Linked DNA regions of Homo sapiens: all the other regions are linked to region 1. Evidence: fine-mapped expression QTL. A gene starts in region 1. Each other region holds a variant in brackets. All regions are shown on one strand. Distances are between the middles of the regions.

What was found. PIP is the estimated chance that this variant, and not a neighbour inherited with it, causes the effect.
Region 2: its variant is fine-mapped to the expression of MATN2 in iPS cells (HipSci, PIP 0.95).
Region 3: its variant is fine-mapped to the expression of MATN2 in lung (TOPMed, PIP above 0.99).

The regions. Positions count from the first base shown.
Region 1 is chr8:97,864,000-97,874,925 of GRCh38, forward strand. MATN2 (matrilin 2) reads left to right here and starts at 5,065. Exons shown (of 19, transcript NM_002380.5): 1 at 5,065-5,288. It also overlaps the pseudogene RPS23P1. RefSeq lists an enhancer at 4,166-4,665.
Region 2 is chr8:97,991,288-98,002,213 of GRCh38, forward strand. It overlaps MATN2 (matrilin 2), which reads left to right. Exons shown (of 19, transcript NM_002380.5): 7 at 3,193-3,315. Among named protein-coding and RNA genes, the nearest start is that of SNORA72, 45 kb to the right of the region's middle. The variant G/GT (reference allele first, on the strand shown) is at 6,530.
Region 3 is chr8:97,925,927-97,936,852 of GRCh38, forward strand. MATN2 (matrilin 2) reads left to right here. Exons shown (of 19, transcript NM_002380.5): 3 at 5,027-5,596. Among named protein-coding and RNA genes, the nearest start is that of MATN2, 62 kb to the left of the region's middle. The variant G/C (reference allele first, on the strand shown) is at 6,772.

The DNA.
Region 1 (10,926 bases):
CTCCTAATAGCCGACCACTTTGTGCCAATTTCTAGGTTTAGGAATGAAAGCAGCAGCAATCTGTGTTGCTGAGCGATGCTTCCATAAATAGCAGGTCCATCCTCCATTTCCAAAGTGAAACCTAGTCTGCAGGTAGACAGGCAGTGTTTCAGCCTTGTCAGTATCCAAGAAAACAAATCATATTTGTGCTCACTATTGCCTATGCATTAAGGCTCCCCACTTTATTATCTCATTCTTTACATTAATTTTTTTTTTTTTTTTTGTAGAGATGGGGTCTTGCTGTGTTGCCCAAGCCAGGCTCACACTCCTGGGCTCAAGGGATCCTCCTGTCTCAGCTTCTCAAGTAGCTGGGACTACAGCCAACTGCAACTGCCTATTATCTCTCTTTTAAAATCTGAGACGGGGTCTTGCTCTGTTGCTTAGGCTGGAGTCTGGAGTGCAGTGGTGCAATCACAGCTCATGGCAGCCTCGACCTCCCCAGCTCAAGTGATCCTCCCATCTCAGCCTCCCAAATTGCTGGGAGGCTAATTTTTAAATTTTTAAAAAATTAATCCAGCTAATTATTAAATTTTTTGCAGAGATGGGGTCTCACTGTGTTGCTCAGGCTGGTCTCAAACTCCTGCGCTCAAGTGATCCTCCTGCCTAGGTCTCCCAAAGGGCTGACATGACAGGCATGAGCCACTGTGCCAGGCCTTATCTCATCCTTGATAGGAAGCTGCATCAATCTGATTCCACAAAACTACAAGGCTCTAAAATCCTGGTTAGAGCCGGTGTAACCCAGTCCCTTCTACAGCATGGCATAGGGCAAGATCTATAAATAAGCAAAAGGCCCAGTCCCTGTCCTCAGGAGCTCATGGTCCAAGTCAAAATCACATAAAAACATTTGAGTCCCCTTTGAAATGAGTATTGTTTTCTTGAACAAATTTTCAACTTGCTGTAGTTTTTTTCCTGATCACTTTCATCCTGTCTTTCCAAGATGGGATATGTTTATTTAGAAATTACTTCACCTGGGACAGCTGCTTCTCTCTTTTGCTCAGGCCCGTAGCACTGCAGGATGGGCAAGTGTCGTGGACCTCATACTGCTAGGAGTCTCTGTAGTCACCAACAAGATCAGAAGTGGCATGATAAACAGTACAAGAAAGCCCATTTGGGCACAGCCCTGAAGGCCAACCCTTTTGGAGGTGCTTCTCATGCAAAAGGAATTGTGCTGGGAAAAGTAGGAGTTGAAGCCAAAAAGCCAAATTCTGCCATTAGGAAGTGTGTCAGGGTCCAGTGGATCAAGGATGGCAAGAAAATCACAGCCTTTGTATTCAGTGATGGTTGCTTGAACCTTATTGTGGAAAACCATAAAGCTCTGGTTGCTGGATTTGGTCAAAAAGGTCATGCTGTTGGTGATATTTCTGGAGTTCGCTTTCAGGTTGTCAAAGTAGCCTGTGTCTTTCTTTTGGCCCTATACAAAGGCAAGAAGGAAAGACCAAGATCATAAATTTTAATGGTGAAAACACTGTAGTAATAAATGTTCATATGCCAAAAAGAAAAAAAAGAAATTATGTCACCTGGGACAATGGTGCCATCAGTCAGCCTGTCCTCAAAGGAACCCTCTGGACATGGACCCAACTGTCCATGTAGATGGGGTATCCCAAAGGGAGCTCTGCCCTGCCTACAGGGTTCCCCTCCCTGGGCTGGAGTCCAAGCTCATCCACTACCTTGGAACATTCCCTTAACCCTGCATCTCCAGCTCCAACAAATGGGCAGCTGGCCGGATATGAAGATGTTTCCTCTCCTGGCCTTCTACTTGAGGGAGACAGGGAGGAGCTCTAATAGTTTACATAGGACTCAAACACTGTCTGTCACCTAGGGAAACAGTGCACGTGAGATGACATTGCAATTTTACATGTCTCCTCATGCATTCAGTAGAGCTTTATTTTAGGTTTATAGGTCCGTGAGGCAACCTGTTTCTTCTTCAGTTTCCTTATACTGTACTCTGGTCCCCTTTGGATTTGACAGTCTCATTTCAATCTGCCCTCTAGGCCAGATAGCTAGGTCTCAAGTAAGAAGGATTCTAATGCAAAACAAAAAGTTCTAATGTTTACAAGGAGCAAAGGGATGCTTATGTTTAAAGTCTATATTCGAGGCTGTTCACGAGTGTGAGGCCTGGGTCAAATGACTCTCCTGACCCAAATCCTTACTCCACAATAGACTACGTGGAGATCGAGAACTGAGAGTTGATCCCAAGTATAGCTACTCAGGTTGTGATTAGTTTAAACAGATACCAATTCCAGTTAACTTGTGAGCTCTTAGGAGTTCTCAGATAATACATACCTCATTTTTGTCTGCTTACATGAGTGCCCACATAAGAACTGAAAATCTGTTTTTTTTCTTTCTGGGACAGAGTCTCACTCTGTCACCCAGTCTGGAGTGCAGTGGTGCAACCTCGGCTCATTGCGACTTCTGCCTCCCATGTTTAAGTGATTCTCCAGCCTCAGGCTCCCGAGTAGCTGAGATTACAGGCGTATGCCACTACACCCAGATAATTTTTGTATTATTATTATTATTATTATTCTTAATTTTTATTTTTTGAGATGGACTCTAGTTTTGTTGCCCAGGCTGGAGTGCAGTGGCACAATCTCAGCTCACTGCAACCTCCGCCTCCCAGGTTCAAGCGATTCTCCTGAGTTGCTGGGATTATAGCCTCCTGAGTAGCTGGGATTATAGGCGCCCACTACCACACCCGGCTACCTTTTGTATTTTTAGTAGAGACGGGGTTTCACCATGTTGACCAGGCTGGTCTAGAACTCCTGACCTCAAGTGATCAGTTCGCCTCAGCCTCCCAAAGTGCTGGGATTACAGGTGTGAGCCATCGCCCAGTCCCAGAACTAAAAATCTTAAACCCACACTTCTGAATAAGGTTCTCTGTACATCTAGCACATGGCAGGACCTCTAGCAGAAAAGGCAATTTTGGCCTTTTCCTAATCTATAGTCTTAATTATCAACTTGCAATTCATCCTGAAGGTAACCCAGAAATCATTTCATTGTTTGTTCTGCCTTTATATTTCAGGACATTGAACTTGCTTTTCCTTCATTTTTTTCTGGCAGACCTGAAGATCATCCCACAAGGTAGAACAACTCATTTAACCTATTTGACTTGGCCCCAAGTGTAATTTGTACATAGATTAACTATTCTGAAGAATTCCAATAGAACTCCCTGGGGGGAAAACACCCATTTTAATTGGCATACACCAGAGTCACTGGAATCAGTTACTAAATTACAATTTCCTTACAATTTGGAAGGGTTTGGGGATTGTTATTGTTTTCCTGGTAAATTACTGGATCACACTGGTGTCTTGGAATAAGTCAACACATTTTAAATTTAAGTTTCCATAAACTGTAGCTCAACTTCCCAAGTTCCTAGGGGATTTTCACTGGCCCAGACTCAGGAAGAATTTTCTTCTATGGGATCCAAGACTTCAGAGACCAAACATTTCCTGAAGACTTTCCTCTGCTTTCTGACCTCCACCTACCTCCTCCCAAAGACATAACAAAAAAACTATTTGTGATCAGTGCAGGCAGCCAAGAGTGCCCAGTGGGCCTAAGGTACTGGGTAAAGGAACAGGAATCCACAATTCTTTCTTGGTATTAAGGTATCATTGACTTGCCTGATGGCTCGAGTATGTTAACCCCTTGCTTCATGGCTGGAATTTTAATTACCCCTCCTGGAGCTTTTCTGAAGAATTGATTTTGGCGTTTATTCATATTTCAGAAATCAACTCTATCATCAAATAGGAATGATGGTTAATTACAAAACAAAGTCCGCCCAAAGCACCAAATTATCAGACTGTGGCACATCCAGAGGTTTTGAAACTAGTTAGTGCTGCTGCCTCTGCTGGTAGCTTGTTAAAACCTGAACTGGGGCCGGGCGCAGTGGCTCACGCCTGTAATCCCAGCACTTTGGGAGGCCGAGGCGGGCGGATCACGAGGTCAGGAGATCGACACCATCCTGGCTAACACGGTGAAACCCCGTCTCTACTGAAAATACAAAAAAAATTAGCCGGCCGTGGTGGCGGGAGCCTGTAGTCCCAGCTACTCTGAGGCAGGAGAATGGCGTGAATCCGGGAGGCAGAGCTTGCAGTAAGCCAAGATTGCGCCACTGCACTCCAGCCTGGGCGACTCCGTCTCAAAAAACAAACAAACAAACAAAAACACAAAACCTGAACTGGGTGCGTTGGCTAGTGGTTTGGGAACAGAATTTTGGAGCTTTATAGGAGATGTCCTGGTCTGTTATACATCCACTCACCCCAGCCTCCAGGAACTGGGGAGCTGGTAGAGGGGGGTGCCGGCCACTTTGACTGTCGCTGGCCAATCCTGTCTTCTGCATCCCTCCAAGGCTCCATGGGGACATCCAAGGTGAGGTTCCTCCATTCTGCAAAGTTGCAAATGTCTCTGCTCATAATTTCAAAAGTCTTGTCTGAACTAGACTTTCCCTGCTCCCTCGGGGTAGGAATTTTGTCTCCTCTCCATCCTGGCATCTTTACCTCCTCCCCATCCCGGGGCCTGGTCCCCAGCCAGTGGACGCTCTGTTAATATGAACTGGCACTGGTGGGGTGCTCTGGGCACTGGCAAGACAGCTCTTGGCGCTTGTCATCAATTAGCCCAATTCTCACCACTTTTTTCTCCATCCCCGCGTCAGTGGGTGCGTCCCGCAGGTCATGACCCCAAGTTCTAGATGTAAGATTCCTGCCATGTCTCCTTTCCCCCAGAAGACCCCTCCCCGCACTCCCAACCCGACAGGCCCCTAAAGCTGCCTGTGTTCCGTGCCTGCGGCTCCGGACCCCTGGAGTCTGATGCCCGCCTGGGCTCAGGCACGGACGGAGTGGAGCCAGGTGGCAGCAGGCAGGGCGCGCCGCCAGAGTGCCCAGCTCCCGGGGCTGCCCACAGGGTGGGGCCGCCCTCGCCGCCGCTCCCTCTCCGCGCCTTCCCCATCCCCAAAGAGGACACCCCTCCTTCCGCCCGGCCCGCTCCCCACCCCCGCCGCGGCACCGCCTCCCCAGCCGCCCGCCCTTGCCCAGCGCCTCCCAGGCAGCCAGCGAGCGAAGGGAGCGCTCTGGGATGGGACTTGGAGCAAGCGGCGGCGGCGGAGACAGAGGCAGAGGCAGAAGCTGGGGCTCCGTCCTCGCCTCCCACGAGCGATCCCCGAGGAGAGCCGCGGCCCTCGGCGAGGCGAAGAGGCCGACGAGGAAGACCCGGGTGGCTGCGCCCCTGCCTCGCTTCCCAGGCGCCGGCGGCTGCAGGTGAGCGCGGCGCGCTTTCCCCCGGCTCTGCGCGGCCGGGCGGCCTCGAAGTGCAGGCGGACCGACCCACCGACAGAATACCGAGCCTGGGCTGCCCGACGCGCAGGCGCCCTCCCCAGGCCCGCACTGCAGCCCCCAGCGCCCCGGGGCCCCGGCGCCTTCGACCCCTCCGAGGACAGGGGGAGAGGGAGGGCGGCGCTGCCCGACCCCTCGGCCGGGAGAGCTGGGCGCGCTCCCTGCGCAGGACAAGCCGCGCTGCAGCCGCCCCGGAGTGCCCCGTGGGGGCGCTGTGGCACGCAGCGGGGACGCCCAGACCCCGGCCACCGCGACCCAGGGAAAGGGAGACCTGTTGAGCGGGTATGCAGGGTGATTCCTATTCCACGGACAGCCGATGGCTCCCCCTTCCCTCTTCGGAACCTGGTATTTTCATGCCCGTGTCATCTGGATTTTGTTCTTGGGTCTCTATGGCAGCTAAACCTCCAGCTTCCCTATATTGTGGAAGAGGGAGAGAAAGGGGAAGGCATTTTGTGGTAGTTGCTAGAAACCCCAGAACAATTTGGAGCCGTTTGGGGAGAGGACAGAGAAATGGGGACTGTCCCTGGTAGGGTCTCCAGGACTGGGGGCACAGGAAAGTGCTCTCCTCAGGGACACTCGCGCCCACCCTGAACAAACCCAATTGACCAAGTTTCAATTTGTCATAAATCAGGAAGCCACAATGCATCTGCACCAAGCACACTTAAAATCGGCCTTTAAGGAATGGGGCAGTCAAGAGACTTCAGGGACCCGTGGTCGAGAGCAGAGACTGGGGTCAGCCTGCTTGGGTTTCAACCCCAGCTGTGAAGTTTACAGGGTTGATAACTTGAAGGTACCCAAGTATGCCTCAGTTTCCTCATCTGTCTAATGAGGATGGTAATACCCACAGAACTGTGAGGATTAAATGAGATATGGCGGCCGGGCACGGTGGCTCAGGGCTGTCATCCCAGCACTTTGGGAAGCCGGGGCGGGCGGATCACCTGAGGTCGGGAGTTCGAGACCAGCCTGACCAACATGGAGAAACCCCGTCTCTACTAAAAATACAAAATTAGCCGGACTTGGTGGCGCATGCCTGTAATCCCAGCTACTCGGGAGGTTGAGGCAGGAGAATCGGTTGAACCCAGGAGGCAGAGATTGCAGTGAGCGGAGATGGTGCCATTGCACTCCAGCCTGGGCAACAAGAGCTAAACTCCGTCTCAAAAGAAAAAAAAAAAGATATGGCAAGTAAAGTCCTTAGAACATTTCCAGGAGCATTCTAAGATTAGGTGAGTTCCATGGCTTGTCTTTGCAGAAATAGCAAGGAGCTGCTATGAGCAGTGAATGTACCTCTTCCCCAGTTCAGAAAGAGAGGCTCTCCATGGGTACGTGAGGGTGGCAGATAAGCCACGTGTATGCAACTGGTAGTTCCATGCAGGAGTCCACACGGGCGCAGTTCTCCCTGCTTGCTCCCAAAGGGCCAACCTCATAAAACCATGTCAAAATACCAACATGGGTTTATGACCTGGAATGTTTCCTCTCAGTCCCTGAAACTTGGCACTTAGAATCCTCTGTGGAGAATGAGATACTTATGGCTCTTCACCTTGCATTTTCCTATCTGTCCACACTTTTTACTTTTATTTCTGCCAATAGAATTCAATCTCAGGCCCCCGAGTTACCAGGACACTGTCTTCTATAAATCGGGGCTCTGGGGTTTCTTGTTCCCAGGCAACCCAGGGCCACCAAGGCCTAAGCTTGCTTGTTGGAGGTGTCAGAGCAGAGTCCAAATCTGAAACACCCTCGAGCAGCTGTCATGCCCTAAGCTCTTATCAGCGAGTGCCATATGTCCTTGTTTAGCAAAAGGTAGTTAAAAGTGTGGCCTGAGATTTAAAGAAAAGGAGAGATGTTTGCTCTTTGAAATAAGAGAGCCATTGGAGGTTCTGGAAAAATAATTCTACAGTTTATTTAGAAACAGTTCTGACTGGCACCTAAGAGAGGGCAAGGAGTGAGGTGGGGAGACTAAAAGGGGGAGAGACCGGCTTAGGCCTCAGGAAAAGCAGGCCGAAGAGGGTGTGACAGGTCTAACGCTGGCCTGAGCAAGGTGTTGGGTATGAGGCTGGGCAAGCAGTAGGAGAGGTGAGTGGTTTAAGACCAGTCAAGTTGGCAGAGAGCCTCTAGTGCTGCCCCTGGCACTCACTGCCCTCTGATCTGTAGCACCTGCAGGAGCGTCCCTTCCAGGGATTCCCCGTCTTCTAGGGAAGCTATGGAGGACTCCCCTGTTTAAAGCATATGGCAAGATAACTCAGGAGGGCCAGGGAAAGAGGGAGGCTGAGCATATGCCAAGGGGAGAATGGGGAATGTCATTGCTGTTGCTAGTGAATGGTGCCAGGGAGGTCCTTCCAAGGGGCCACTTGCCACTTGGAGCTTCAGCCCATGAGGCCATCCTTGAACCCTGCCATGTGGCTCGGCAGACAGCCAATACTGCCTGAAGGGGGCTCAGATGGAATGGCAGGGCTGGGCTGTTGCCAGTAATTGGTGTTAATGACTATGACAGTGGCTTTGACATGGATGAGATGGAGTTGGGGTACAACCCAAAGCACACTGCTCTTGGCACCCGAAAGACCTGGGTTGCAGTTCTAGCCCCTCATACCTGCAAAGATTTTGGAAAGTTACTTAGACTCTCTGTGCCTGACATCTGTTTCTTCATCTGTAAATGAAGACTGGATTTTTTGGGAGAATTAAATTAGTTAACAGGTGTTCAGTGCCTAGCTCAGAATAAATGCTCAATATTTGTTAGCTATACTTACTATTATTGTCTGAGCCTTGGTTTATATCATCTGTCAAATGGGCGTGATACTATGTCATAGGGTTGTTGTAAGGGTTAAATGAAATAATTAATGTGAATTTATCCAACAGTGTGTGAAGGGTGTAAAGTACTCAAAGTGAGTCAATTGAAATGGAAAATTTCACAAAATACCTGCATGTAAAAATCAGCGGCTGAGCAGGTGGATCAGCTAACATTTTTGGAAAGTTATTCTAAAAGTACTGTCAGAGGAACCTTTATCTACTTATGGAAAGTGGGGCTCACTGCCCATGGGGATACCCTGTAGTTATTTTATGTTGTTGTATTAGTTGCCTATTGCTGCTATAACAAATTTCACAAACATAGTGGCTTAAAACAACCCTAAGATGTTATCTTGCAGTTCTGAAGTTCAGAACTCTTAAATGGGTTTTGTAGAGCTAAAATCAAGGTGTCAGCAGGGCTCTGTGGTTCCTTTTGTAGGCTCTTGGGAAAATGTCTTTCATTTTCTGACTTCTAAAACCTGACTGCATTTCTTGGCTCTTGGTTCCTTCTTCCATCCTCAAAGCCAGTAACAGCATCTTCCAACCCTTCTCCCCATCCTGACTCTCGTGTCTCCCTCTTACAAAACCATACCTAGAAAATCTGGGCTAATCACTGCATCTCATAATTCCTAAGTTAATCACATCTCCAAAGTCCCCCCGTTTTTTTTTTTCAAGACAGAGTCTCGTTCTATCGCCCACGCTAGAGTGCAGTGGCGTGATCTTGGCTCACTGCAGCCTCCGCCTCCCAGGTTCAAGTGTTCTCCTGCTTCAGCCTCCCAAATAGATGGGATTACAGCCATGAGCTACCACACCTGGCTAATTTTTTATATTTTTAGTAGAGATGGGGTTTCACCGTGTTGGCCACGCTGGTTTCGAACTCCTAACCTTAGGTGATCTGCCCACTTTGTCCTCCCAAAGTCCTGGGATCACATGCGTGAGCCAACCGCACCCGGCCCAAAGTCCCTTTTGCCATGTAAGGCAACACAGTCTGGGGATTAGGCCATAGACATCTTTGACATATTATTCTATCTGCCAGAAATATTAGAGTATTAGATTGGGCATGATGGTAAGAAAAACTATTTAGAAAAAAGAAAGAAATATTAGAGTATTAGAGAAAATGATCTAAATCAAAGAGTTTTAGCTCACTTCTGTTTAGGGCTTCTCCCTGTACCCTCCCAGTTAGGTGAGTTTGTTTTCACATCTCTTTTTTTCTTTTTTTTTTTTTTCCCAGACAGTTTCTCTGTGTTGCCCAGGCTAGAGTGCAGTGGCACAATCTCTGCTCACTGCAACCTCTGCCTCCCAGGTTCAGGTGATCCTCCTACCTCAGCCTCCCAAGTTGCAACACCATGCCCTGCTAATTTTTGTATGTTTAGTAGAGACAGGGTTTCACCATGTTGGCCAGGCTGGTCTCAAACTCTTGACCTCATGATCCACCTGACTCAGCCTCCCAAAGTGCTGAGTTTACAGGTGTGAGCCACCATGCTTGGCTGTTTTCACATGTCTTAAAGACCAAAAGCTCAAGACCAGAGGGGTCAAGGCTATGGATCAAATGCTTCTTGAAACTCAGTTCAGAAATGGCTCCTTCCTGTCCTTTTTGGGCTTTCTCCCTCCCCTTGAGTAACCCTCAAATTTGTTTCTTTTTTAGATTTTTGTAAAAACTTTTTTTTTACAGAGACAGGGTCTCGCCATGTTGTCCAGGCTGGTCTCGAACTCCTGAGTTCAAGTGATCCTCTTGCCTCAGCCTCTCAAAGTACTGAGATTATAGGCGTGAGGCACCACGCCTGGCCAGTAACCCTCAACTTTGGCCCTTAGAACAGTCACTGTTGCCCCATCAACAGCATTTGTTGACTTTTCTAGCTGCTTCTCCTCTTCCATTTCTAGTGAAATAGAAAAAATGCCCTCATGTCCAGAGCAAGATCTCTGTGAAGCAAATCACTCTAGTGACGTTTGACCTCCCTGAGATTCCCAGACGGTGTCTGTACTAGTTTCCTATTGCTGCTGTAACAAGTTAGCACAAACTTAGTGACTTAAAACACAGATTTATTATCTTACAGTTCTGGAGGCCACAATTCTGAAATGGTTCTCATGGGGCTAAAAATCCAGGTGTCAGCAGGGAGAATTTGTTCCCCTGCCTTTTCCAACTTCCAGAGGCTGCACGCATTGCTCGGTTTGCTTCCATCTTCAAAGCCAGCAATGTCAGGCTGCATCCTTCTCTCACTGCCACACCTCAGATCTCTCTTCTGCCTTCCTCTTCTTCTTCTTCTTCTTTTTTTTTTTTTGTTTGAGACAAGGTTTTGCTCTGTCGCCCGGGCTATCATGCAGTGGTGCGATCACGGCTCACTGAAACCTCAGTCTCCCGGGTTTAAGTGACCCTCTTATTTAGGCTCCCAAGTAGCTGGGACTACAAGGATTGTGCCACCATGTCTGGCTAAATTTTTTTTTAATTTTAATTTTTTGTAGAGACAGGGTCTCTCTATCTTGCCCGGCTGATCTTCGACTCCTGGGCTCAAGCAATCCTCCTGCCTTGGTTTCCCAAAGTGCTGGGATTACAGGCATGAGCCACCATGCCCTGACCTCTTCTACTTTTTTTTTTTTGAGACAGAGTCTTGCTCTGTTGCCCAGGCTGGAGTGCAGTGGTGTGATCTCAGCTTACTGCAACCTCTGGCTCCTGGGTTCAAGCGATTCTCCTGCCTCAGCCTCCTGAGCAGCTGGGATTACAGGCGCGAGCCACCATGCCTGGCTAATTTTTCTATTTTTAGTAGAGATGGGGTTTCACCATGTTAGT
Region 2 (10,926 bases), 130 kb after region 1:
CCAGGCTGGACTGCAGTGGTACAGTCATAGCTCATAGCTCACTGCAATCACCAACTCCTGGGCTCATGAGATCTCCTGGCCTCAGCCTCCCTAGTAGCTGGGACTACAGGCAGGTGCCACCATGCTCAGCTAACTTAAAAAAATTATTTTTCTGCTGGGCACAGTGGCTCACGCCTGTAATCCTAGCACTTTGAGAGGCCGAGGCGAGTGGATTGCCTGAGTTCAGGAGTTCGAGAACAGCCTGGGCAACACGGTGAAACCCCGTCTCTACTAAATTACAAAAAATTAGCTGGGTGTGGTGGTGTGTGCCTATAGTTCCAGCTACTCGGGAGGCTGAGGCAGGAGAATTGCTTGAACCCGGGAGGCGGAGATTGCAGTGAGCTGAGATCGTGCCACTGCACTCCACCCTGGGCAGCAGAGCGAGACTCTATCTCAAAAAAAAAAAAAAATTCTTTTTTCAGAAATGGGGTCTTGCTATGTTGCTCAGGCTGGTCTCAAATTTCTGGGTTCAAGCAATCCTCCAGCCTCAGCTTCACAAAGCATTGGGATTACAAGCATGAGCCACCACCCCTGGCTGAATTTTAATTGTTATTTCATTTTAATCAATTTTAATTTAAATAGACATATTAGGCAGCATGGTTCTAGATTAAGGGAGACTAAGCAGATATGAAAACGAGATACAATCTCTGACCCTAGACTAGATCCTGTACTGGAAGGTGAAAAATGCTATGAAGAACATAATTAAGTCAACTGACAAAATTAGAATATGGATGGTAGATTAAATATAAGTATTGTATCAATGTAAACTTATGAAATTTATAACCATACTGCAGTTATGTAAGAGAATATCCCTCCTCTTAGGAAACACGGACTGTTTTTAAGGGAAAGGACCAGAATGTATGTAATGTACCCTCACATAGGTCAGAGAGATGACCAAGTAATCACAGGAATGGGGTAAAATGTTAACAAAGGTGAATCTGGGTAAAGAGTATTTAAGTGTTTCTTGTTTTATTTTTATGTTTGTAACTTTTTGTAAGCTTGAAATTGTTTTCAAAGAAAAAGATTTTTTAAATGCCTTTATATATGACTATGGTATTACAATTATATTGTTTATAAAGACTCCCAGTGTTTTAAAGCTACATTATGAAGCATTTATGGACAAAATAATACAATGTCTGGGCCAGGTGTGGTGGCTCACTCCTGTAATCCCAGCACTTTGGAAGGCTGAGGCAGGTGGATCACGAGATCAGGAGTTCAAGACCAGCCTGGCCAAGATGGTGAAACCCCATCTCCACTAAAAATACAAAAATTAGCTGGGCACAGTGGCAGGCGCCTGTAATCCCAACTACTTGGGAGGCTGAGGCAGGAGGATTGCCTGAACCTGGGCGGCAGAGGTTGCAGTGAGCCAAGATTGCGCCACTGCACTCCAGCCTGGGTGTTAGAGTGAGACTCCATCTCAAAAAAAAAAAAAAAAAAAAAAAAATTACTCAGGCATGGTGGCATGCACTGGTAATTCCAGCTACTCAGGAGGCTGAAGCAGGAGAATTGCTTGAACCTGGGAGGTGGAGGTTGCAGTGAGCCTAGATTGCGACATTGCGCTTCAGCCTGGGCGATGGAGCGAGACTCTGTCTCAAAACAAACAATAATAATAATAATAATAATAATAATAATAACAACAATACAATGTCTGGGGTTTGCTTCAAAGTAATGTGGGATCTTACTATAGAGAGTGGGGACATAGCTGAAAGCCAAGCAGCCATAGATTGATTCTCCTGAAGCTGGGTGATATGTACATGGATTTATTATACTACTCAGTCCATTTTTGAAATTGGACATTATTGTATATTTTGCTTAACATTTCCATAAGTTTAAATTGGGAAAAATTGGCATCTCACTCAACATTTTTTCCTTTCAAGAATATTGTATATCTTTCCCTTACTCAGTTTGTTTCCTCTGGTATGGACTGGGAACTCTCATTTATACCAAATTATTTGTTAGGAAGATTATTTATGCAGTTCAAATGTTCCTTAAAATAATAAAAACCCTCATCAAAACAAAGACTCCTTTTAAGATTCCATCAGTGGTCATTTATTTCAAGCAATTTTAAACAATGTGTCCAAGTTCCACTATGGGAAAATATTTTGCTCAGATTCTGCAATAAAAGTTTCTTTCCATATTTAAAAATACTTATACAAAAAATACAAAAAAAAGAAAAAGAACAAAAACAAAAAAATAAAAATACACAAGTAAAATTTCATTATGAAAAATTTCATGAAATACTTTTAAAAAAATATTTTGGTTTAAATTAATGTATCCCTAGAGATCACATTCTCTGTGAATCTTGAGGTAAAAATCCTATTTATGTGCAGCTGAGCCCAATGAGGTAACCAGGAGGTGTTTTGAACTCAGAGTATTTATGCCTTTCACTCCTAGGCCTTATTTTTCCCAGGATATGATTTTGTGTCTTATTGTTTGGCTCATTGTTTGATGGGTTTAAGTGGTTTGGAGTTTGGCTTTGGGAACGTTTAATTGTTTTAATTGCTTAAATTCGATAAAACACTCAGCTAAACCATTCTCAGCCTGCAGTCTGGCAAATACCCCATCTTCATTTTAGTGGCTCTTACATGAATCAAGACAAGGAAAGCATGTTCACAAATTTGTTTGTTGCATAAACGTTTTGTAATATGTCAGGAAGTTTGTCTTTGCCTAGCAGAAGAGTCCAGGTATAATAATAATAATAATAGAAGAAGAAGAAGGAAAGGAAGAGAGAAAGAAAGAAAGAAAGAAAAAGAAAGAAAGAAAGAAGAAAGGAAGAAAGGAAAGGAAGGAAGGAAGGAAGGGAGAGAGAGGAAGGAAGGAAAGAAAGAAAGAAAAGAAAAGAGGGAAAGAAGAGGAGGAGGGAGGGGGGAAGAGGGAAGAGGGGGAAGGGAAAGAGGAAGGAGAAGGGGGAGGAAGGGAAAGAGGGAGGAGGAGGGAAGAAGGAGAAGAAGGAAAGAAGGAGAAGAAGTTTCTCTTAGGAGAGGCCATATCTCTAAACATGGAAGTAGCTTTATTGGGAGACCCCTTCATGGTGTGACTCTTTGAGGTGTGGGATTTTACCTGTTTGGGAAAATGAAGACTGGAAATCCCTGGTTTTCCTATGCTAGCTTTATTGATTGGTTTGCCATTCTTGTGATTTTTCCTTCTTGCCAGAGATAGACTACTGTGCCTCATCTAATCACGGATGTCAGCACGAGTGTGTTAACACAGATGATTCCTATTCCTGCCACTGCCTGAAAGGCTTTACCCTGAATCCAGATAAGAAAACCTGCAGAAGTAAGTTACAGTGGGAGTTGGAGAAGGGCTTGTTCTGCTAAATGCTCCTCTAGTTAGTTTTCCTTTCCGTGCAAATCTTAAGCAAGATGTGCTTGTATTCAGCATTGTGTCTATTAACATTATTCTCCCCTTTATTTTACTTTTTGGCTCACTAGATCCTATTATGTGGATGATTTTTAAATATTGAATAGGTCTGGCCATTAGATTCAATTAGCCAAGTGGACCCAAGCTGAAGCTCCCACCTATGTGAAATGCAGGTGCAGTCTCCCTCCCCCTTATTCCCATAGCATTGGGGTCTTGGAAAAAGAAAAGAATGGGCCCAGAGATGAGAGGTAGAAGGAGTTGGTTTCTTCTACTCCTACAAGATAAGACACTTGACGGATGCTAAGAGGGAGGACATTGCAGCTTTATTCCCTTTGATAGGAAAGAAGAAGAAAAATGAGACTCTAGGACATCCCAGCAATATTCAAGGGGTACAGGGTGTCAGCGGGTTGATATTGTGGATGTACTGAGTGCCTCAAATGCCTGTCATCTAGCACATCAAAGGGCATGATTGGGGATCTGAGCACAGGCCCCAGAGGGCACCTGCTTAAGACAAACCATTCCTGAGAGACTGCTAGAATGGACGGCCCACAAGGACAGAGACGATTATCTTTTTCTCGCTGCTGAATTCTCAAAAGCTCAAAGAGTGCTTGGCACTCATAGATGTGCACAATGTTTGCTGAATGGGAATGAGTAAGTGAATCTTTCTATGATGTATCATCCTGGAGAAATTGAAGCTATTTTTTTTTTAATTCTTCAATCTTGTTAGAAAGATAGCCTTTTTTAGGCGTGCAAGTTGTGAATTTTTTTTCAGAAAGTCTTTCCCTAGTTAGTCCACACTTATGCACACTGAATTGTTTGGGGTCTGCTGACAATGTCATTCGTAGAACTCTCTGGAGCTTCCATTGAGGGATGTAATTTTCTGTATGTTCCTTCACCCATTTCTTCCTGATGGTGTGTACAGCAGTGTTCTGCCTGGCAAGACTGCGTTTTGAAAGGTTTCACATATATCTTTTTTGAAAAGCACCATGAGCTATTTAACTGAATCCAGATGAGTCACATTCTGCTCATAGCACAGATTAACTTTCATACTCATTCTAGCAAGTGCTAAACTGTGTATAGTGGCAGATGGTTGCAAATCCTGGATTTTGAAACGGAGCCTGTCTTATAAAACTATTCTCACTGCCTTGTGAGGGTACAAACCCTGCACACATTCAAGCATTAAATGAAAATTTTAATGGAGAGCATTCAGAATGTGAAAACAATTAGATAAGCTATTTTTCATAAGACCACACATGCCTGCAATAGGTCAGAGGGCCAACTTTTCTGGTCTGGCCACTCCTCTGTGCTATTTACACCTTTTGCTAGGAGTGGGTGTGTGAGGGACTGGCTGCACCCAGGGGAAATCACTCCCAGGTGGACTCAAATTTGCAGACCCAAAGCTCTTCAGTGGGCGGTGATTAGATCTGGTTCAGCTCAGATGCTCATTGCAAGCTTCCTCATGTGTTACTAATGGAGGGGAAAAAGGAAACAAGTTAGGCTTGGGGCCATGGGCGGAGGACATTTTCTTGACGTTCTGCATGTCTTACCAACCATCTGAGTCCCTTAATTTCTGCTACTCCCTCCACACCCTTCCTGGAGAGGCACTTGGAATAAGAGAAGATCCAATGCAATGCAGGCATCATTATCATGGGAAGGAGAAGACTGAGAAAGGAAGAGCGAGTAGAGAGGGAGTGACCGTTTTGGAGTGGTCTGAGCGCTACAGATTGGTCCCCAGGTGGGCCTGTTTGCAAGCAAGCTGTGGCCCCGACCAGAGTCCCTAATGCTCATCCATGTATATTCAGTGGGTATAGCCCCTCTTTAGCCAGGGTTCTTACTTTTTCATCCAAGAAAAATGAAATTTGTTCCTAAAGGCCAGTGTCCTCATCAGCCCTCGCCCAACGTCCCGCCTCATCGTTACATTTTCCATTGTCTTTGCTGTGAACCCAACCCTGACTCCTGAGGTCAGCCTGCAGGAGCGGCCCCTGACTTCATGCTTGCACTCAGTCCATTAGGGCAGACAGCTGTAAACGGAAGCGAGTGCTCACTGTCTCTCTGGAGCATTATGTGGATGAAGGAAGCCAAGAAATTGGGTTTAAAAATCTGGAGTCCGTTATTAGAAGCCTGAGGTCTCTTGAGTGATCTGAGCATTACAAATCTTCAGCCCAGGATACAGCCATTTACGTTTAATAGGAGGTTGATGGATGTGGGTAATTTTCAAATCTAATATGAAATCTATTTTTAAAGGAATTTGATGTCATCGAAATTAAACTGGGGGAAAAAAGATCAAGGCAGAATCCTACTGAAGAAAAGATTCTTGGCCAGGATTTGTTCTTGCTCCTCATCTGGGCACAATTTCTCCTCATGGAGAGTGCTATCATCAGTTTAAGGCATGAATTATTAAGGCAGTAGTGCAAAGCACAGAAACTGCGACTGCCTTGCCTGCCCAGGTAGAGCCCTAGGGCCAAATCAGATGTGGGTTCATCCCCTGTGCTGGGCTCCAGGATCCCTGATTCTGGTACCATGATGAGTGCTCTCAAAAATTGGTGTGAAGCCCACGGGTTCGACTGAGCCAAGAGACGTGACGTCCAGGCTTGGCAATGTCACTCATATTGGTTATGTGACCCTGAGCAGCTACTTTCTACTTCTCAGGACCTGGATTTCCTAAACTGTAGGAACAGGACTTCCTGCCTTAACACCCTGTTGCCTCTCCAGTTTTTTTGAAACTTACTATCTGTGCACTCAGCTGGTATCAAAATGTACTACCTGGGGTCACTGATCTTTCATGGTTTCAGTCTTACCTGCTCAGGGCTCCAACTCTTTCACAAGTTAGCACTCAGAAAGATCGTTTGATTTGTTTTCTGACAGTCCTGTCATCTGACCTCACAGAGCTTTAGTGGACACTCTGGGCCTTACCAGATTAAGTTGTGTCCATCCTGTGGGTGCCATGTCAGAGCACCTATCATGGTACCAGATATAGGATGCACAGTAGGTCCTCAATAAATATTTAGTGAATGAATAAGTGAGTGAGTGAATATCTGAGAAGCACACACATGAGGAAATATGACAAAAGGGTGGTGAGAAGGCAAAGAGCCACTGTTAAACGTCTGCTAAAAAGAACCATTTGGAGAAG[G/GT]TTTTTTTTTTTTTTTTTTTCCAGACAGAATCTCATTCTATTGCCCAGGCTGGAGTGCAGTGGAGCAATCTTGGCTCACTACAACCTCTGTCTCCCAGGCTCAGGTGATTGTCTCACTTCGGCCTCCCTAGTAGCTGGGACTACAGGCGTGCACCATCATGCCTGACTAGTTTTTGTATTTTTAGTAGAGACGGGGTTTCACCATGTTGTCCAGGCTGGTCTCAAACTCCTGGACTCAAGTGATTCTCCCTCCTCAGTCTCCCAAAGTGCTGGGATTACAGGCATGAGCCACCACGCCCAGCCGAAAAGGGTGGTATTTGAATAGCTGCCTGCCAGATTGCTGGGTGATAACCTCTTTAAGAATCTAAATGGTTTTCAGTTGAATTATCTCATGTGTAAATCATTCTTTAAAAAAAAAATCTTGCTGGGCGCGGTGGCTCACGCCTGTAATCCCAGCACTTTGGGAGGCCGAGGCGGGCGGATCACAAGGTCAGGAGATCGAGACCATCCTGGCTAACACGGTGAAACCCCGTCTCTACTAAAAAATATTAAAAAATTAGCCGGGCTTGGTGGCGGGCGCCTGTAGTCCCAACTGCTCAGGAGGCTGAGGCAGGAGAATGGCGTGAACCTGGGAGGCGGAGCTTGCAGTGAGCCGAGATCGTGCCACTGCACTCCAGCCTGGGCGACAGTGAGACTCTGTCTCAAAAAAAAAAAAAAAAAAAAAATCTTGCTTGAAACATTATTTACTAATTTATTTTAATTTTTTAAAAATGTTTTTCTTTTTATATTTTTATTGTATGTGCTGCTGAAGCGAGAGCTTCAGCATATTTTTTTATATTTTTAAAATTTTAAAAATTTTTTTTTATATTTTTAAAATTGTTACAACATAGTTGTACCTCTTTTTGGTATTTATTTATTTTTTAAAATTGACATAAAAATTGTATACTTGTATACAATATGTTGTTTTGCAATACGTAAATATAAATTTTTCTTAAAGACAACATTGGCTTTTTTAGTGTGGCAAAATATATATAACATAAAATGTACCATTTTAACCATTTTTAAGTATCTAGTCCAGTGGTATTAAGCACATTCACATTGTTGTGCAACCATCACCACCTTCAATCTCCAGAACTTCTTCACCCCAAACTGAGACTCTATACCCATTAAACAATAATTCCCCAGCTCCTCCTCCTCCATCTCCTGGCAGCCACCAATCTACTTTTTGTCTATGAATTTGACTATTCTAGGTGCCTCATATAAGTGGAATCATAGAATATTTGTCCTTTTGTAACCAGCTTATATTGCTTGGCATAATGTCTTCAAGGTTCGTTCAGTTGTAGGACGTGTCAGAATTTCCTTCCTTTTTAAGGCTGAATAATATTCCATTGTATCTATACATCATCCTTTGTACTCATCCTTTGATAGATCCCTGGGTTGCTTCCACCTTTTGACTTTTATTTATTAATGCAGCTATGAACTTGGGTGTGTATACCCAGAAATGGAATTGCTGGATCATATGGTTAATTCTATATTTAATTTTTTGAGGAACCGCCATGCTGTTTTCCACAGTGGCTGAATGCTGGGTTTTAAAAAGAGAGTTGACTAAAGATCATTTCACCTTTCCCTGATGGTGTAATGGAGTGATTCCTACAGGCAGTAGACTGCGGGCCCTTCCTGTTCTGTGTTTGTCTGTCTGTCTGTGACTGGTGTTTTATTGCCAGGCCTATTTTCCTCCATCAAAGCTCTTGGCTTGTTTCCTGGCACTCAGTTATGGCCTGCACAGGTGAGGCTGCTGATGAGTTTCAGGTAGATGAATAGAAACTGCACACAGCTAACAATATCCTGCCTCTCCTCACATGGGAGTGAGCTCCAGAGAGAGTGCCAAGGGTCAGTGACACAGCAAGGTGATGTCTTTTCTTCTACACCAGCCCTGCATGTTGTGACCTTCTCTCCATGCACTCTGTCTGCAGCCATTCTGCTCATACTCTGGGCATGAAGCAAGCTCCAGCCACCAGTCACCTGGGAGGGCACGTCACGGATTCTTTTTTTTTTTTTTTTTTTAATTTTTTAATTTTTTTAAAGACGGAATCTCACTCTGTCACCCAGGCTGGAATACAGTGGCGCGATCTTGGCTCACTGCAACCTCCATCTCCTGGGTTCTAGCGATCCTCTCACCTCAGCTTCCCAAGTAGCTGGGACTACAGATATGTACCACCATGCCTGGCTGATTTTTGTATTGTTAGTAGAGGTGGGCTTTCACCATGTTGGCCAGGCTGGTCTTGAACTCCTGACCTCAAGTGATCCATCCGCCTCAGCCTTCCAAAGTGCTGGGATACAGGCATGAGCCACTGTGTCCAGCCAGATCCTTTAAGAGACCCTTTGAGGGGTCCTTCAGGTCTGGGTCCCATTCACATTTCCATTTTTACTAGCAGTGGATCTTGATCAAGTTATTAACCTCGCTAAACCTCAATTCCTCAGCTTTGAAATATGGATAACAGGCCAGGTGCGGTGGCTCACGCCTATAATCCCAGCACTTTGGGAGGCTGAGGCGGGTGGATCACAAGGTCAGGAGATCGAGACCAGCCTGGCCAATATGGTGAAACCCCGTCTCTACTAAATATATAAAAATTAGCCGGGTGTGGTAGCGGGCACCTGTAGTCCCAGCTACTCAGGAGGCTGAGGCAGGAGAATTGCTTGAACCCAGGAGGCAGAAGTTGCAGTGAGCCGAGATCACGCCACTGCACTCCAGCCTGGATGACAGAGCGAGACTCCGTCTCAAAAAAAAAAAAAAGAAATATGGTTAACAATCACACATATCTTGCAGGGTCAAATGAAGTTATGTTTGTAAAGTGGTTGGCACAGCATCTGGCATTCAGCAGGTATTTAAGAAATGGCAGCAGCTATGATGCTATGATTATCATCACTAATGTAACTATCAGACTGCCACTAATAGTGAGAAAAATAAAGATGGCATGGTCCCTGCTCGTGGAACTCAGTCTAGTGAAAGAAACAGACTTTGAAGCATCACAGATACAAAACATACTACATAACCATTGTGATGAATGCTACGAAAGAGAGGTCCTGTAGAAAGAACTGACTTCATCTACGAGGTCACAAAAGATGACAAAATGATGTTGAGCTGATCGTGAAGGAAGATAGAGGTTAGCCAGTGCAGCAAGGAGCCACTGAGACAAGAGGGTGATGTGTCATATCTTTAAGTGATTTGTGGATGTGAGCTTCGTCAAATAACTTTTGGGCAGATACATGGTAAAAATAAAATCTAGTCATTACTTTATGATTTCAGATCATTTCCCCTGTATCAGTTATGGTGCTTTTTGTTCACACAAAACCGGAAATCCAATTAATGGTGTTTTAAGTCAGAAGGACTTTTATTTTTTACCTGACAAGTCCAAAGGTGGTTGGTCCTATGGATGGCTCAGTGACTCAGTGATATTATCAAGAACCCAGACTCTTTCTGTCTTTCTATTCTGGCAAAGTATGTTGCATTTACATTTTCATCCTTGTCACCTCTTGGTTACAAGATGGTTGCTGCAGCTACCAGCATCATATCCTTACACTACAAGACTCAAAGGCAGAAAGGACAGAGAGCAGAGAAAAGCATTTCTCTTTATACACTTTTGTCTTTTTTTTTTTTTTTTTTTTGAGACAGAGTCTCACTCTGTTGCCCAGGCTGGAGTGCAGTGGCACAATCTCAGCTCACTGCAACCTCTGCCTCCTGGGTTCAAGCGATTCTCATGCCTCAGGCTCCCAAGTAGCTGGGATTGCAGACGCATGCCACCATGCCCAGCTAATTTTGTTTTTTTGTTTGTTTGTTTTTAGTAGAGGTGGGGTTTCACCATGTTAGCCAGGCTGGTCTTGAACTCCTGGCCTCAAGTGATCTGCCCACCTTGGCCTTCCAAAGTGCTGGGATTACAGGCATGAGCCACTGTGCCTGGCCACCTTTGTCTTTTCAGGAAGAAAAATCTTTCTTGAGGGCCCCCAGTAAGCTTCTTATGTTTCATTGGTCAGAACTAGGGCATATTCCCACCCCTTGACCAATGACTGACAAAGAAGAACATGGTTGCCACGCTGGCTTAGACCAGCCATGACTCATGCTTGGGGGTCATGGGGTAATGGTTATTGGCAAGACAACCAACAGTGTCTGCCACATCCCCAGAAAAAGAACAATGCTGTGCAGTTAAACTGATCCAGCCCAGCCAATGAGGTCGGTGGTGACCTTTTCCCGCAACACCAGTCTCATAAAGCCTCTCCACAAGCTCATTTTGTGTCCTTTTCCAGTTCTCTATCTTCCCTGGAGCCTGCTATGTGTGGGGTCTTATGGCTTTAGCATTTTCTACCAGGAAAGGAATTGCTTATTGGCTCCTGGTTATGAC
Region 3 (10,926 bases), 62 kb after region 1:
GATTGAATTTAGCCAGAACGGGAGAGAGGCTGATTAGTGACAAGGCTGCAATCTTGAGAGGAGGAAATAGTTCTGATGTTGCACATTGTCATTCTGCTGGAGTAGGAATGTTGCTTAAAATTGTCCTGGCTCAGTTCCCTTTCTCTGGAAGAGTAAAAGACACTCATTTGCCCAATACATGGACTTTGGAGTCAAGCTGACAGTACTGGAAGAGCTGTTAACAGAGTCCAGATCATCACTTTATGGTTAGAGGGATGACGTTTTATTATGGGCCCACAAACTGTCCTCCAACTGTGGCTGAAAACCCTGTCATGAGAGGCCAGAAGGAAGATCATTGTATGTTCTTCTCCCAGGCCAAGGAGACAGGATGTCCTTCATCAGAACCAGTTGTCAGCATAAGAAGAACACACACCAAGGAAATCCATTTCCTGGAAACATCTCTCAACAGTTCCCATGTGGAGAAACTGTGAAGCTTTTCACAGCAAATGTTTTAGAGTGTTCCCAGGTATTTGCAAAGCTCCTATCATAATGCTGGCTGTACTGATAATTTCCTAAGGGTGCCTGCCATGAGACGATGGAAAGGGCATCAGGTCTGACCATGGTGAGCCATGAGGGCCTTGCAGAGATAGAGTCAACTCTCTGGGCCTCAGTTTTCCTTTCTATAAAATGAGTGACTTGGACTCTGTTGGGACCCCTCTGCCTCTAAGATTCTACTAGTCTGTGATTCCATGAGTCAAACTTCAGAAGTGGTTATGGTCCCTCATAAAATGGCAAAGATTTGGGTCCTAGAATCTATGACTCCATTAGCAGGACCACATCTCCTCTAGAACATTTTGGCTTCGTGCTTGTCATCATCTTTTTGTACTAACTGCTCTGATTCAATCTCTTTCCCTGAAGACTTGCTTCCACCAGAATTCCATTTAATTCCACAGATGTTGAATGAAGACTTTCTGTGTTTCCAACTGCATGCCTACAAAGATAAATGAGACTAGTTTCCTAACCTTGGGGAATTCCCAGTGAGATAGCAAGGTCAAGACTTTATAGAACTTCTTTTCTCCAGAGAGCTCTCTATTTCTTTGACCTGTGTGTGTCCCTAGACCAGTAATATTGACTTCACCAGGGAGCTTGTTAGAAATGGAAACCTACAGAATCAGAAGCTCTGGGGTTGTGGTGCACTGGTCTTAGTTTTGTTCTGTTTTGTTTTGTTTTTGTTTTTGTTTTTGTTTTTGTTTTTGAGATGGAGTTCCACTCTTGTTGCCCAGGCTGCAGTGCAATGGCATGATCTTGGCTCACAGCAACCTCCAGCTCCCAGGTTCAAGCGATTCTCCTGCCTCAGCCTCCTGAATAGCTGAGATTATGGGCATGCACCACCACACCCAGCTAATTTTGTATTATTATTATTTTTTTTTTTTTAGTAGAGATGGGGTTTCTCCATGTTGGTCAGGCTGGTCTTGAACTCCCAACCTCAGGTGATCTGCCTGCCTCGGCCTCCCAAAGTGCTGGGATTACAGGCATGAGCCACTGTGCATTTGGCCTGGTCTTAGTTTTTAACAAGTCCTCTAGAGAGTTGAGATGCACACTTGAGTTTGAGAACCATTGAACTAGCCCTTTCAGGGACAAGCTATGAGACTGTGGTTCTGAGCCCTCAAGGGACCCAAGGACACATTTTGAAGAAAATTCAGTTACTTGGGCTGCCAGGACTTGGTGTTTTCAACTCAGAATTACAGCTTTCTTGGAACCTCCAACAACATTTTGAACCTTTGTGGCGTTTTTGTACATGTGCAGGTGTTGTGGAAACTACCCATTTGTTTTGAAGGGAGAGAATCCAGTTTAGCACACAATTCTCCATGGAACTTCCAGGCTTCCCTTTAAATTGATTGTGATGCTTGGATAGATATTGACACCATGACTAAGACCCATAATAAAGGCCCAATCCAAGGAGGCTCTGCTACTTCCAAAGATCTCCAAAGGAAGAGAGTTCTCAGAGTGCGAGTCTTGTGTGAATTTCCCTCCCTTCAAAGGTGCCTTAATTAATATCCTCCTCCATGGCAGGGTCTAAGCCTGGCCCCTCTTCTCAGCAGGTAAAGATTATTGGGTCACACTCTCCCTGCAGTAAGTTCAGACATGAAGGGTCGGGCAGGTGTGGCTCTTGGAGAGGGCCTGCCTGGGTCTTGGGAATGCTCCCCCTTGTCCTCCTTCCTGGGATCTGCAGATCCATCATCTACTGCCCCAACCCAGGGCTATATGCTAAACCACAGGAGCCTTCATGAAAATTAGAAAAGCACTCCTGCCTTTTTTTTTTTTTTTTTTTTTTTTCTGAGGTGGAGTCTTGCACTGTCACCTGGGCTGGAGTGCAGTGGCGCCATCTCAGCTCACTGCAACCTCCGCCTCCTGGGTTCAAGTGATTCTCCCGCCTCAGCCTCCCAAGTAGCTGGGACTACAGGTGCGTGCCACCATGCCTGACTAATTTTTTGTATTTTTAGTAGATTTGGCGCTTCACCATGTTAGCCAAGATGGTCTCAATCTCCTGACCTTGTGATCCTCCCGCCTCGGCCTCCCAAAGTGCTGGGATTACAGGCGTGAGCCACTGCACCTGGCTGAAAAGCACCCCCCTTAAGGTGCCTCTTAGGGTGGCTCAGCCCCTGGGGCTCAGGGCTTGGCTGGATTTCAGTTCCTCTCACCTCCTTGAGCAGGTGCCTGTGTGCAGCACCAACCACATAGCCATAGCTGTAACCCTGCCCCTACCCAGCCTGGGGCTGGACACGAGTGAGGGCTGATGGAGGGGTGGGGAGAGCCTGTACATGCAGCCAGCACACGTCGGGAGTTCCCAAGTGCTGGATCCTTCATTACATCATTTCCTTAAATTCTTACAGCTGCCCAACGAGGTGGATATTGGTTGCACCTCTGTATATTTTTTTCTTTTTCTAAATTATGAAAGATTTCAAACTCTCAGTGCTCCCATGTTCTCATCTATGCAATGGGTATGATGCTTCTTGATCCTTTCTCAAAAACTTGTTCTGAAAATCAAATCACACCAAGTGACAAAGTGCTCTGGAAATGTTAGGTTTCATATAGATCTTATCGCTGAACCCTCAAAGGCTCACTTTCTGGGGCCTCTGTTTTGAGACACTCACCCTGGACTCACCCAGCCCTCAGGGTTATGCATGGGTATGTCAGAACGTTGGTTTCTTGCCAGGCTACTGGTATTTGTGGGTGCCTCCTCCCCTAAAATCATTAGACTTGTGAGGCGGCAAGGATGAGTTGTGTGTGCAGGCACTCAGGGACGAGTCACAGCCTGGCAAGCTGGCCTGGACAGGATGACTTCATGGGCCTTTCCCACTTCTCATTTTTATGACTAGCTTTACTGTTTCATTTTGGCTTTCTCTCTCTTTCTTGCAGCTGTGGTGATTAGGATTTAGGGCAAGCATTTGGGATCCCTTTTCTAATACCTTTCAAATCCTGATTCAGCTGCAAAGTCCGGGAAGGGAGTAGAGAATGGGGGAGGAGGGACTCACCCTGGTGAAAGGCAGTAGCTCAGAATATCCGAGAAACTCCCAACAGGAATGCCCAGCCTCCACCCACTAAAGCTGGAGGCCTCTCATCTCATCCAATATCACCCTCGTACTAGAAACGCAAAAGGGATGAGTTTGTCTATGGACTCAAACCTTTACAGTCTTCTTGCTTAGCAGCTTAAGGCATAATTATGGTAGTCATGGTGGTAAGGGACTTAACATTTGCCTTTTTCCAATTTAACTGTGTCCTTTGTTGAAATATTTCTTAGTCAGGTCCCCTTTTCTCTATTTCCACTACTGTCCTAGGATTAGATCTGAGTCCCCCTCTCAATGAGATTAGTCCAGAAATTGTGTATACCATCCATCTTGCAAACCACTGCCAGACTCTGTTGACTTTTCATTATGTAACTTCCCTATGGGAGAGGTGAGTTACATAATATGATGCTAAGATGCCCCTCACTGGTGGCATCATGTACATATTTCTCAGTCTGAAAGGAAAGGTCTTTTTAAACTGGCTTCAGGCCATCTGTCCAACTAATTCCTGCCTGCAACTCCTAGTATACCCTCTACTACAAGGTCTCATCACTTATTCTGTTACCCACCACATTCATTCCGTCTTGGGCTTTGGTTCATGTGATCCACTCGATGTGCTCCTTCTCTCTAATCCAAACACCACGCATCTATAAGGTCAGCTCACGTCCCATCTCCTTGACCCCAGCCCATTCATATCCCTATTCTCTTAGCAGCTATTGTCAGGACGACACAGTTTTCATGCCAGTTATTCTTTCATGGTTTTATTAGTTAATTCTCCCCAGGTAGATTAGAAGCTCCTTAACTTTGGACCCTGTCCTAAGCTTCTGTTATATTCTCTGCAGTGCCCAGCCAAGCTTATGTGTCATGCAGTAAAGAATAAAATAATTTTGACCCTGATCAGGTGTTTGGTTACATAAAAACTGCATTGGCAACTTTCTAGAAACTAATATATTCATTTATCTTGCAAAAAGGATTGCTATCTGATTATAGCCAGTAGTCATGATCTTCCAGCCATGCACAAATATACCCTTATAACTTTCATGAGTGGGGAGGAAAATTGATGAAGGAGGTTTCAAAGGTGATCATCAGTCCCAGGATTTCCAACAATAGCCAGTCTGCCCTGGGTCCTTAACTCTCTTTTAATGTTTTTATTCTTATTTTTATTTTTTTAATGCAGTCTCACTCTTGTTGCCCAGGCTGGAGTTCAATGGCACTCTCTTGGCTCACTGCAACCTGTGCTTGCTGGATTCAAGTGATTCTCCTACCTCAGCCTCTCGAGTAGCTGGGAATACAGGTGCCGCCACCACACCCGGCTAATTTTTGTATTTTTAGTAGAGACAGGGTTTTACAGTGTTGACCAGGCTGGTCTTGAATTCCTGACCTCAGGTGATCCACCCGCCTTCCAAAGTGCTGGGATTACAGGTGTGAGCCACCACACCTGGCCTCTCTTCTAATGTATTTGACCTCTCCTCTTTCCCCAGAGAGTTCCTGTGAGAACAAGCGGGCAGACCTGGTTTTCATCATTGACAGCTCTCGCAGTGTCAACACCCATGACTATGCAAAGGTCAAGGAGTTCATCGTGGACATCTTGCAATTCTTGGACATTGGTCCTGATGTCACCCGAGTGGGCCTGCTCCAATATGGCAGCACTGTCAAGAATGAGTTCTCCCTCAAGACCTTCAAGAGGAAGTCCGAGGTGGAGCGTGCTGTCAAGAGGATGCGGCATCTGTCCACGGGCACCATGACTGGGCTGGCCATCCAGTATGCCCTGAACATCGCATTCTCAGAAGCAGAGGGGGCCCGGCCCCTGAGGGAGAATGTGCCACGGGTCATAATGATCGTGACAGATGGGAGACCTCAGGACTCCGTGGCCGAGGTGGCTGCTAAGGCACGGGACACGGGCATCCTAATCTTTGCCATTGGTGTGGGCCAGGTAGACTTCAACACCTTGAAGTCCATTGGGAGTGAGCCCCATGAGGACCATGTCTTCCTTGTGGCCAATTTCAGCCAGATTGAGACGCTGACCTCCGTGTTCCAGAAGAAGTTGTGCAGTAAGTCCTGCTCCTTTGTCACTCTTCTAGAGGAACCACTAGAATTCATTCATTCATCTTCAAGTGTTCATTCTGTGTTACTATGTCCCAGGTACTGTGCTGGCAATAGGTTTTCAACAAAGGCCAAGATAAACACAACGTGCTCCAGGGGCTTACACTTTGGCCAAGAGACACATGTTTTTATTTATTTATCTTTTAGAGACAGGGTCATGCTCTGTCACCCAGGCTGTAGTGCAGTGGCATGATCACAGCTCACTGTAACCTCAAACTCCTGGGCTTAGGTGATCCTCTTGCCTTAGCCTCATGAGTAGCTGGGACTACAGGTGTGCACCACCATGCCTGGCTTATTTTTTAACTATTTGTAGAGACAACGTTTCGCCATGTTGCCCAGGCTGATCTGAAACTCCTGGCTTCAAGCGATCCTCCTGCCTCAACCTCCCAAAGTGCTGGGATTATAGGCATGAGCACCCAGCTAAGACAGACATTAAATATATAATTATACAAATAAGTAACTATAGTTGTCACAGTGTAATGGAGGAAGAATTCAGGACATGAAGGAGTGTGCAACCCCAGGACCTTATCTAGGCCTGGATGCTCAGGGAGATTGCCCTGGGGAAGGGACACGTAAGCCCAAACCACAGAATGAGGAAGAGTAGATAGACAGAGTTTTTCTTCAGCACATGGAGCTGCCCTGGAATTCCCTAAGTTGGAATTCATGAGTTGGAGTACGGATAGGAATGGAAGGGCAGAAAAAGTAACATAATCTCTCCTTGGATGGTGTGGAATACCAAGGCATTTTTGCCCCATGGTGGTGCTGGCAGGGGATGTTTTCTCAGCTGACAAAGAGGTCCAGCGTATACAGAGGACCAAGGTGTGGTCCTGGCAGCTCCCCACCTGTTAAGATTGTAGGGGCCACTCCTCACCTGCCAACTCTTTCTGCAGGAAGATGCCTCTCGGAGCCCCTGAGCTGCATTCTTCTATGTTGGAAGCTTTCTTTCCTCTTTTGCTTTCTAACCCTCTTTTCACAGGGCTTCTCTCTCCCTTCCTTCCCACGCACTTTCCAGTTATCTCTACCCCTGCTGCTGCCCCCACTCTTCTCAGCAGGTCAGCCTGCATTCTCCCCAGTTTCCTGCCTCTGCGGCTGCCTTTTTGTTCCTTCCTCCTCCGGGAGGGCA[G/C]GGGGCCAGCCGCCCAATCCAGGAAACTCGCATCCTGATTTGGTAAACAATGTCCCACCCTGACTTGTCCATTCCCAGTGGTCCCTGTCCCCTCCAGCTACCATGAATCTTTGGTGGGGAAATAAAGGGAAATAATCTATTTTTAAATATCTATTTGTAAATTATCTATATGTAAATATCTATTTGTAAAATGTAAAATATCTTCCTAGAGCAGAGTGGAGAATGAGCTTTAGAGCCAGACTCAGCACCAACTCCCCAGGAGAGGGCACCCAGGAGGGGGTTCTCAGAATGTGACATATTCTAGACCTCTAAGATATAGCCCCCAGCGAAGAACAATGTGCTTTTGATGTGTATTAAACAAAATCCCCTGCTGAGAACTAACTTCAAAAAGCACAGAGATCTCATTTGTTCTTGACTCCGGAATCAAAAGATTTACTTAAGAAATCAATGCCATGAAGAAAAAAAGAACCTTTTTCCTTGCCATGCCACTTGGAAAGTGTTCAGAAGTGCCATTTCCCTGGCACTGCAGAGGCTGTGTTGTTGTGGTGTGTTGTGGCCTAAGTCAGCTGGAACACTTCAATCAGCAGAACACACTGCAAACATTTTCAAGGTTTATGACTTTAAATGACTTCTGCAGAATTTATGTTTCCCCTTTCCTGAAAATATTAAAAGGGAAATTGGTTCTGTAACCATTTTGACAGCTTATTCATTTGTGTTGGAAAATTTTAATGGAGGGGTTCTTTTTATAAGCCTTCTGTATTTATCAGAAAATGGAAAGATAACATGATAAGGCTGAGGAGCTACACAATGGGACTGACCGCCCCCCTCCCCCCACCCCCGCAATCCTGGTGTCGAATAGGATATACCAATGTGGACTTGTCTGTGGAAAAACCATCTCTGTGTGCTTTCTGGCAAGGCAGCAAAATGAAAAGGCAGTTTGGACTTTTCCTCCCTTCATCTTCTTTGTTATAATCTGGAAGCTCTAAGAAAACATTAGCGTTATCCCGCTTGTTCCTGTGCCTGAGAAATGAATCCCCTGTGAGTCCCCCCATCCACTCTGCAGGAGACAGGGCTGCTGTCTCTCACTGCACTGCACTGCCCGGCTTTGCTCAGCAGACTCAGCAGCCGTCTTGAAAGGCTGAAGAGGCCCCAGGGCCTCTTTATCAACTTCATGGTAAAGACTGTAGTAACTAACATTTATAAAGCACTTTCCCTTATGTTATCGCAGAAAGCCCCAGGAGGCAGGCAGCACACTCTTGCCACTCTCTTTTTACAGGTTAAGGAACTTGCTAAGTGAATCACCTGAAAAACAAATAGCCAAGAGATAGTTGGATGCTAATTCCAAACCTCTTGCTCATTTCACTCCTCTGCATGTTGGGAATTACAAATTCCTCTTTTAAGGTAAACCATTTTCTGGTGGCCACCTCCACAGTCCAGCCTGGCCAGGTAAACCTACTTTGCAATTGGCATTCACCTAAAATAGGTGAAACTCTGAAGGCAGCCTTCGTAGGAGGAAGAGGAGCTGACTCTAGTTGTACAATCTTGAGCAAATCCTTTGTGCTCTCTGAGCCTCAGTTGCCTCATCTGTAAAATGGGGATTTTATATGCAGAAAGTAGATGAGTGAACAGGTGTTGTAAATGGTAGAGCCCTATTCAGTGTGCACTGTGTTATGTATTATTACAATCAAATACACTGAGGACCGATGGGCTAGGCAGATGGCCTCAGTTTTGATCTGCACTCAAATGATCAGACAAAAATGGTGAGCATTTTCCAAGTTGCAGATGACATCTCTGAGGTTTGGGAAGTCTCATTTGTTCCTTAAACATTCATTGAACCTGTAAACCAAAAAGTATCTGAGACAAGTCCCAATCAATGTAAAAGTTTATTTTGCCAAGGTTAAGGACATGCCTGGAGAAAAGGAACACAAAATCACAGGAACAATCTGTGGTCTGTGCCTTTTTCCAAAGATGATTTTGAGAGCTTCAGTATTTAAAAGGGAGAGAGGGAGGGCATGGTCACATTACTGAATCCACATGTTGCAAGAGAAAAGGAGCAGGTAGGGGAACAGTCAATCATGTATTCCTCTAGTGCTCAGTAAATCAACACTTTACATAAGATAAGGTGAACATAGAGTAGCTACTTATGCAGATATTTAACCTTTTATCTGTAGCTATCTGCTTAGGAACAAAAGCAAAGGCAGTTTCTTGCATTACTCAGCTTTTAGCTTAATTTTTTTCCTTTTGGCATAGTGATTTGGGATCCTGAGATTTTATTTTCCTTTCACAAACTGTACCCCAATAATAGCTAATCTTGTCCTGTGCTAGGTACTTTCAAATACAGTATTCCACTTAATACTTAAAATAGCCGTTTGAGATAGGTACTATCATTATCTTTTTTTTTTCTTTCTAAGAGATAAGGTCTCACTATGTTGTCCAGGCTGGCCTCGAACTCCTGGGCTCAAGCAACCCTCTCACATCAGCCTCCCAAGTAGCTGGGACTACATGTCACTATACCTGGCTCTATTATCCCTATTTTACACAACTGGAAATTGTCAGGGTCTGCCTGGGGGCTCCAGGAGAGCTTTAAAGATGAGGTGATACTAATAATCACTAACATTTCTTGATATTAATGTATGCATGTGTTGTTTCAGGCTATTAGTGTATGTTAACTCACTTTATTCACACAACAAACCTGTCAAGTAGATGCTCTTATAGTTCCCATTTTATGGAAGAGGAAATTGAGAACCAAAGAGGTTAAATAACTTGTCCAAGGTCACAAACCTGTAAGTGCTGGAGCTTGTTTTTTTGTTTTTATTTGTTTGTTTTATTTTGTTTTTTGAGATAGGGTCTCACTCTGTCACCCAGGCTAGAGTGCAGTGGCATGATCATAGCTCACTACCGCCTCAAAGTTCCATCTCAGCTTGGACTACAGGTGTGCGCCGCCATGACTGAATAATTTTTACTTTTTAAAAAAGAAACAATGTCTTACTATGTTGCCTAGGCTGGTCTTGAACTCCTGGGCTCAAGCAGCTCTCCTGCCTCTGCCTCCCAAAGTGCTGGGACTACAGACATGAGCCACTGTGCCTGGCCTGTAAGTGGTAGAGTTGAGACGTGAGCCTAGGCATTCTGCAGGCAGAACTGAAAATCAATGCTACATCTGCAGATTGGGACAGGTTCTGTCTGGGTGTGATCAAGGCAGGACCTTTATCATACAGTGAGGAATTGATTAGACTCTGCAGCCAGACCTCGCTGGGTGAGAGTCCTGGCTTTTTTCTCTTTGGCTGTCTGGCTGTACAATCTTGAGCACAGTGGAGGCTTTATACTTGCAGGCAGGGACTTCCCATACCAGCCACAGCAAGGGGAATCCTGAGGTTGCATTCTCAGGCCACCCTTGAGACCACCAGGGAGAGGCCAGGTGCCCTGTGAATTGAGGTCCTGTCTACAAGATGACCAAACCCCACACATCCTGGAGTCTGCCATTTTTGCCACCCAGTAAGAGAAAACATGGAATCTATGGGCTGAAAACGCTGTCCCCAGTGTTCTGGTGATTCTTGCCACCTGGGCGAGATTGCTTTTAATTAACCTCTAGGTGCTGACTTTATCAGCCTCATCTGGTATTTTGGAGCAGGGAGCCAGGCTGTTCCTACCCTAATAGCCCCACCCCACCCAGGCCAGGCACAATTTAAGGCCCTAATAGTATTCCTAGGACACACCCTTCATGAACTGGCCTGGGCAGTCTACACTGATGGCACCCCTTTGAGGTCCTGATGTGAAGTGGGGAGGCTGGACTGACTTCACAAACGTTGAGTCTACTGTGCCCAGTAATACAAGACCTCCAGCCCACCTCCCTACACTGACCACTCCTTTAGTCATTCATACAATCATTAAAAAAAGGACTGTTCTTATTTCCTAGTCAACAAATCCAATCCCACCAATGACTTAGGCTGCTGATTAGTTATTCCTCCCCGCTGAACACAAGGCCTTGGCTGAGTGTAAACCCAGAGGGCCTTCTGAGAAATGAGGCTCATAGGACTGTTTCCAGCAGGCCGGTGGAGGAGGCAAGGCTGTGGTCTCCCCTTGGCTCTCACCGCAAAGGCCCATCCCACAGAGGGCAAGGCATGAGGCCTGGATGCTCTGAAAGTCACTCAGCACTCA